2 linked regions of the Homo sapiens genome follow. The protein of the gene in region 1 interacts with the protein of each later gene in a pairwise test. Each region holds a gene or a part of one and is shown in the gene's direction. Other genes may lie near its edges. The genes, in order: RNF38 and DZIP3.

Evidence for each region.
Region 2: the proteins of RNF38 (region 1) and DZIP3 interact in a two-hybrid assay, tested with the Homo sapiens proteins (one large-scale study listed by BioGRID and IntAct).

What each region holds. Positions count from the first base shown.
Region 1 is NC_000009.12:36,372,685-36,376,509, reverse strand, and holds part of RNF38 (E3 ubiquitin-protein ligase RNF38), read left to right. Parts: intron 1-382; coding exon 383-576; intron 577-3,825. UniProt on the Homo sapiens protein: Acts as an E3 ubiquitin-protein ligase able to ubiquitinate p53/TP53 which promotes its relocalization to discrete foci associated with PML nuclear bodies. Exhibits preference for UBE2D2 as a E2 enzyme.
Region 2 is NC_000003.12:108,645,138-108,648,962, forward strand, and holds part of DZIP3 (E3 ubiquitin-protein ligase DZIP3), read left to right. Parts: intron 1-1,479; coding exon 1,480-1,512; intron 1,513-2,805; coding exon 2,806-2,975; coding exon of another isoform or gene 2,976-2,981; exon of another isoform or gene 2,982-3,780; coding exon 3,781-3,825. UniProt on the Homo sapiens protein: E3 Ubiquitin ligase proteins mediate ubiquitination and subsequent proteasomal degradation of target proteins.

The sequences.
Region 1 (3,825 bases):
TTGATGTCTTATTGATGGGAGATTGTAGTGTAGTGTAATTTTTCAGGTGGTTTGGGAATTTAAAGAGAAGGTCGAGTACTACACGAAAGTTTTATTATGCTGTTTTATACCCTATATGTCGTTACCTCATTTGCCTTAGAATGAGTTTTTAAAAACAAAGCTTATTTTTCACTTCGTATCATTTACTGTGCATCTCCCTCCCCTGTTCTACCCCATCCCAGCATTTTTTAAAGGTTTTAAATTTGAATTGATAGCATATATTTTTTTCCCCGCTTTACATTTTTAGATTTTAGGTTAAGTACATCCTAACACCTGTGCATATGCAGTAATGTGAAATCTTTAAAAGATCTTACTCAGTTGATCCATTTTGTTGCATTGGCAGAGTGAAGATAGTCCAAGTCCTAAGAGACAGCGCCTCTCTCATTCAGTCTTTGATTATACATCAGCATCACCAGCTCCCTCACCACCAATGCGACCATGGGAGATGACATCAAATAGGCAGCCCCCTTCAGTTCGACCAAGCCAACATCACTTCTCAGGGGAACGATGCAACACACCTGCACGCAACAGAAGAAGGTTAGTTGATTACAATTTATTTCTTAAGTTTTCTTCCATTGGTAGATTTGTGAGTATATTTAACATCAGAAAACATTTTTTCTGTAGGCATTTCATAAACACATCACCACATATACACGTACATTCACTCACGAAAAAGAAAGTTGCCTAGATTTCCAGTAGGTTAGAAGAGTTTATTTAGCTTATCATTGACAGATGAAGAAATGGAAAGAGGCTAAAATCAGTCGATGCCATTATATATGAAATTAGCTACTTAAGGTACAGATTGTTGTGGACTAGCCTGCGATCTTGACTATTAGAAGATGCATTTTGTAGTTCATAACTGTAAGGATATATGGAAGTCTTAGAAATGAGCTACTCCTTTTCTACTCCATTCCTTTTCCTTCTGTATCCTCAAAGGCAATTAGGAGCTTAATTATGTTTCTTATAAACCCATGGAGACTTGGCACAGTAGTAGCTCATGCCTATAATCGCAACATTTTGGGAAGCCAAAGTGGGAGGATCACTTGAGGCCAGGAGTTCGAGACCAGCCTGGGCAACATAGCAAGACCCTGTCTCTCTCAAAAAAACAAAAAATTAGCTGAGGATGTTGGCGCACATCTGTAGTCCAAGATGAAACTGAGACAGGAGGATTGCTTGAGCCCAAGAGTGTAAGGCTGCAATGAACCTTAGCTATGATTGTTCCACTGCACTCTAGCGTTGGTGACAGAATGAGACACTGTATTTAAAAAACAAAACAAAAAACAACTGTGGAGCCCGTGGTATGAAAAGATGACAAGTTTAGTTCAACTTTTAGGCAATGGGATTTGGCCCTTGTCTTTTCATCCTAGAGGAGTGCATTTCTTCCTGAGTTTCTTCCTCATTATTTGTTGCCAGAGGTCATGTATTTCATATCCCAGGGAAATAGTGAGTGCATTGTGAGGTGCATATCCAGGATGTTGAAGGAATATCAATGATCTTGAGTTAGGAAGGTGTTGCAGACCAAATGTTTGTAACCCCTCCTCCCCAATTAATGTGTTGAAGCTGTAACCTTCCTGTAACCCTCAGTGTGGTTGTATTTGGAGATGTGACCTCTAAGGAAGTGTAATTAACGTTAAATGAGGTCATAAGGTTAGGACCCTTACCCAGCAGGATTAATGTCCTTTAAGAAGCAATGCGCCGGGGTGGCTCACGCCTGTTATCCCAGTACTTTGGGAGGCCAAGGTTGGCGGATCACGAGGTCAGGAGACCATCCTGGCCAACATGGTGAAGCCTCGTCTCTACTAAGATGCAAAAAATTAGCCAGCTGTGGTGGTGCGCACCTGTAGTCCCAGCTACTCGGGAGGCTGAGACGGGCGAATCTGAGGCAGGGGAATTGCTTGAACCCAGGAGGCGGAGGTTGCAGTGAGCCAAGACCGCACCACTGCACTCCAGCCTGGAGACAGAGCAAGACTCTGTCTCAAAAAGAGATGTCGGGGAACTCATCCTCCACCATATGAGGAGACAGTGAGATGTAGTTGTCTGCAAGAGCCAGGGAAAAGATCCCTCTCCAAAAACCGACTATGTTGGTACCTTGATTTCAAACTTCTAGGCTTTAAAACTTTGAGAAATTAAGTATCTGTTTAAGCCACCCAGTCTGCAATGTTTTGTTATGGCAGCCTGAGCGGGCTAATGCAGAAGGGATCTTAAAACCAGCATTCTGTGTTCCAGCTGAAAGAACATAAACCTGTCTCTGAGCTCTATTCTGTTGAGACATTAAGACTTTTACATTACCCAGTACCTTATTAACCAATTACATGGGAATGTTTTTAGGTAAGATAGTATATGGCTAGCAGATAAAGTATTTTATAGCTATTAAATATAATAAGCATGAGAAAGTATAGTTATTGCAAAGTTAAGGCCTGAGTACCTGCTGTAGTCTTCCTATTTTATGATGAATAAAACAAATGTACAGTTAAAAGGCAGGCCGGGCGCAGTGGCTCGCACCTGTAATCCCAGCACTTTGGGAGGCCGAGGTGGATGGATCACCTGAGATCAGGAGTTCGAGACCAGCCTGACCAACATGGTGAAACCCTGTCTCTACCAAAAATACAAAATTAGCCGGGTGTGCATTGCACTCCAGCCTAGGCAACAAAAGCGAAACTCCATCTTAAAACAAAAAACAAAAAAAGGCTAGCAAGGCCGGGTGCGGTGGCTGACAACGTGTAATCCCAGCGCTTTGGGAGGCCGAGGCAGGCGGATCACCTGAAGTCAAGAGTTCGAGACCAGCCTGGGCAAAATGGCAAAACCTGAGATCGCGCCACTGCACTCCAGCCTGGGGGACAGGGTGAGACTCTGTCTCAAATTAAAAAAAAAAAAAAAAAAAGGGCTAACAAATACATACACCCACCACCTAGGTGAAAATTAGTGTTATTGATCCCTCAAAGGCCTCAGGTGCTACCGTTCCCCTTCATTTTTCTTAGAGGGTAACCTTGTTCTGGAATTTGACATTATTCCCTGTTCAGTCATAGTTTTTAATACTTAGGAATGTACTGTTAAGATAATGTGATTTTGGTTTTTGCCTGTTCTCCTTTAAATGTATTTTTCTTTGACTGTTTATTAAGCATTCTGTTTTTAATGTTGATAGCAGTAGCAATAGTTCTATTACTGTGATATAATGTTCCATTATATTAATGTACCACACAATTTATGTATCCGCCTGCTGTTGTTGGCTAGTAGCTATGCCCAGTTTCTTAACTTTTTTATTGGAAATGTAGTTTCAGTCTTGTTGCCCAGGCTGGAGTGCAATGGTGCGATCTCGGCTCACTGCAACCTCCACCTCCCACATTCAAGTGATTCTCCTGCTTCAGCCTCACAAGTAGCTGGGATTACAGGTGCCTGCCACAACACCCAGCTAATGTTTTGTATTTTTAATAGAGATGGGGTTTCACCATGTTGGCCAGGCTGGTCTCAAACTCCTGACCTCAGGTGATCCATCCACCTCGGCCTCCCAAAGTGCTGGGATTACAGGCATGAGCCACTGCACCCGGCTCTTAGTATTATAAACAATACTGTTAGGAACCTTTGTGTGTGCATTTCTCTGTGTACATGTGCAAAAGTTTCATTAGGATGTAAGTCTAGGAGTAGAATTGCTAGTCACAGGAAATGCCTTGGACCAGGAAGGGAGTGTCAGAAATGTCTGTTTACAGATGATGATAATAGTAATTAGCTTTGAGTTCTTTGAAAAGCATCATGGTCCTCGTTCATAGCAAGACAAAAGAGTAGTAGAGA
Region 2 (3,825 bases), on another chromosome or scaffold:
TGAGATTAAAGTAGGGGAGAGTTCATAGAGTACATTCAAGAGGATTTTTTTGTCACATTAAGGAGTCTGCATTTTTCAGAAAGAAATTGTTGAAGACTTTTGAGTACAGTTTTATCACTTTAAGTGGAGTTTTATTCTCCAAAATTAATAAAGTTTAAAACCATGACATGTAAGTACTGTGTGGTTTCAAAGATGTTCGTTTAGACACAGTGTGGATGTATGTTTCTTCTACTTTCTAGCAGAATCTTGTTTAGTTTACAATTTTAGCAGCTATTCATTGGCTGTAGATAATTTTAAAAATCAGGTAACATTCATGCAAGTGTTTGTATTGGCCACTCCCAAACTTGTCTATTGATACGGAAAAGACTTCAGACCTCCTTTCCCACATCTCAGGATACCTTCTCAGCTATTCTTTTGGAAAGCAGAGTTCAAGGCATGACAACATCTCTGAAACCCTGCTGTGCTATTCAGGATGACTTCCTGGTCTCAAGTTATTTACAGCCTAATGAACAACTGATAACCACACTGATGCTATATAAACATACAACTGTAAAAGTTTCTAGTGAACTGGTCCAGATTTTCTTCAGAGATAATTGATGTGCCCAATTTCAGTCCTGGTATTTACTAAGGCTCTGGAATACCTTTGTTTTCTTGCATAATCTAAGAATGAAAGAGGAGGACACTGAGTTTGATATATAAGAAAGTCAGGCAAGAATTTTTGACTTATAAATTAGGGTTTTAAAAAATACATTTACTCTATTAGGATTTTAAATAATTCATGAGAATAGAGTATTTGAGAAAGAGTTTTGAGCACCCATTCAATTCAAAGCATTTTAAGCAGTTCTTACTCAAGTACACTGAAGAGCTTATTGGTCAAGTCCCTTTACTAGAGGCTTTCTTACCATCTTATATTTCTTTCCTCAGCTATTCTAGTTGCTTTTTATTTGGATATCTGATAATTTGATTAACATCCATCATCCCACTAAATCTCCATGAAGATTGTCTTTTTTTTTCTTCACCATTCAATCTCTAGAGCTTAACACAGCCTGATGTACATTGTAGGTGCTCAATAAATATTAATGGGCAAGGAGAGCAAGTGATGATCAGATAAATCAGATTGCTAAAAATAGGTCCCAACTTTCAGTGGAGGTTTGCTGTGTAATTAACTATTATTTCATGGCCTTAGATGGTAAACATAAATATTCGTTGCTTGGTTTAAAGTGCTTGTGTTCTAGGCTTTATCTGTGATACCACATTTTTGTTTACTTTTTTTTCTCTAATCATGGGTTTATAACCTTTATGTGATAATCTAAAGATTGTGCCTTGTCTAAACTGGATTGATGAGCAAAGCTGGTTATTTTTCCAGTTACTTACAGAATAAATTGGTGCAATATAAAAATATTCTGCCTTAATCCTAGCCAGACATTCATTTGTTGCGTTTGCAATTGTACATCTAAAATTTTTCTTTATGTATTATAGGAATTGCTCTACAGTCAATAACAGGCAGTCAGCGTAAGTATATTTAGAAATAAAATGTGTAAATGACTTTTTAACAAGGGATACCTATGAAATTTTTATTTGTTCAGATAAACTAAATGATAAACTATAATTGTGAAGAACTTGGGCCAGGCGCAGTGGCTCACGCCTATAATCCCTGTACTTTGGGAGGCTGAGGCAGGTGGATCACAAGGTCAGGAGATCGAGACCATCTTGGCCAACATGGTGAAACCCCGTCTCTACTAAAAATACAAAAATTAGCCAGGTGTGGTGGCGGGTGCCTGTAGTCCCAGCTACTCAAGAGGCTGAGGCAGGAAAATTGCTTGAACATGGAAGGCAGAGGTTGCAGTGAGCCAAGATCACGCCACTGCATTCCAGCCTGGGCGACAGAGCGAGATTCAGTCTCAAAAAAAAAGAACTTGGAAAATGATGTGATCAAATCACCACTGGTCTGGCTGAATCGAGAATGAGCTTTATTCTGCCTTTGGCTTAGTGCATGTGCTTCAGGGTTTTCCCAAGGATGATGTTCTAACGTTTTACTCACAAAAACTTCAGCAGGCAAAAATACCTTCCTGCTTTCTCTGTTTGGTGTTTAGCGTGTATAACTTTATTTAGTCTGTCTATTGTTTATAGCTATATACTTTTTTTGCCAGGTGATAAGTTGTAATTGTTTAATTTCCATTTTTGTGCTATTTTTTTTAAGTGTAATTAATATTATTCAATTAAAATTATACTTAAAAAAAACACCACCACAGATTTGTTTGGGATAAAATGCTGGACTCTCTGGAGACCAGTCAGACAAAGTCCACAAGTTTTGAGACTGAGTCTCTGGGGCAATATCAAGGAGCAAAGTCTCAAAGAAAAGGTCACATAATAGGGGGCTCACACCCCTCTTATGAAAAAGAAAACAGAAAAAATAGATCTTTTGTCTTCTTTTTCTTTATATTTCAGATATATGTGCTAAAATAATACTAGTTGCATTATTAATAGGATCAAGGTCAGGACATGCAAAAAGTTAGTATTTAGAGTCTACTTATGTTCTAGAGTATCTAATATCTAGAGTCTACCTAAGATTCCAGTAGGTAACATAGCACTCAGGTTCACACTGATTAGTTCCAGGCTGGTGTTTGTACATATTATTTGGTAACTGATAAATGAACATCACATTTTCATCGAGTAATTGAAAAGAGTAAGATATATTTTATTTCTGTTTTGTGAATGTTGCTTTTTTGGGCAAACATTATAACATTGATAAGAAGCTGAAATTGCTTTCATCTAGATTTTGAGAATTTTGTCTTTTATGTTTAGGTATTGAAATAGAAGAGTTACAGAATGAGGAAGAAGAACTAAGTCCACCTCTCATGGAGTACAATATAAATGTGAAATCACACCCTGAGATACAGTTTGCAGAAATTAATAAAGATGGGACCTCAATACCCAGTGAATCTTCAACAGAATCTCTTAAAGATCTCCAGGAAGTATAAGCTCTCATTAATATTTGAGTTAGAAGAACTTATTCTGGGCCTTTAATTTGTTGCATGTGCTGTACTTAAAGCATCCCAGATAATTTTAGCTTATATTTTCATAGTGTTTATACAGAGCTTGAATTGGAATGGTCCTTTCCTTCCTTGCCTCAGTACTTCCTTCCATAATCTTTCCTGCCATAACCATTTATTTTGCCACCATTTCTTAAACACTTATGTGGCAGGCATTATGCTAGACTGTAATATGTTTTTTTAATCCCAGTTGAAGTGGATGTGGGAAGGTATTAGAAAGTAGAAGAAAGTATAGTCTAAAATAGAGAGGAAAGAAAGGAAGAGAAAAGTGGGATATTTCAAAACCATTTGCGCAGAGGTAGAATGAAATTCGTCCAGAATGGAATCTCCGTATTTCTTTACAAATAAGTGGTAACAGTTATTATATAGTCACTAAATTATCCTTAGATCTTTCATCTTATAGGCATGAATATGTTGCTTTTTAAAAAGTGTCTTCCTCCTTTGTTACATCCATGTGTGTAAGTGAGCATCTGTGAACTTTTATCAGTAACCTACTTATTGACATTATGTGTTGTTCCTTTATTCATCAGTGATTATTTAAGGACAGAAGACTAGGATTAAAATAAAAATGATAAAAACAAAAATAATTGTTTCCATAGAATCTAGAAAGAAATACCTATAATATTAGAAAACAAAAGATCTCAGTGGTGAGAGGAAATATATTTTGCAAAATAACCCATTGGGCAATTTGAATTACATATTTAATAAATAATTTTTTACCTACTAGGTTAAGAGTAAACAAAGGAAAAAGAAGAAGACTAAGAATAAAAAG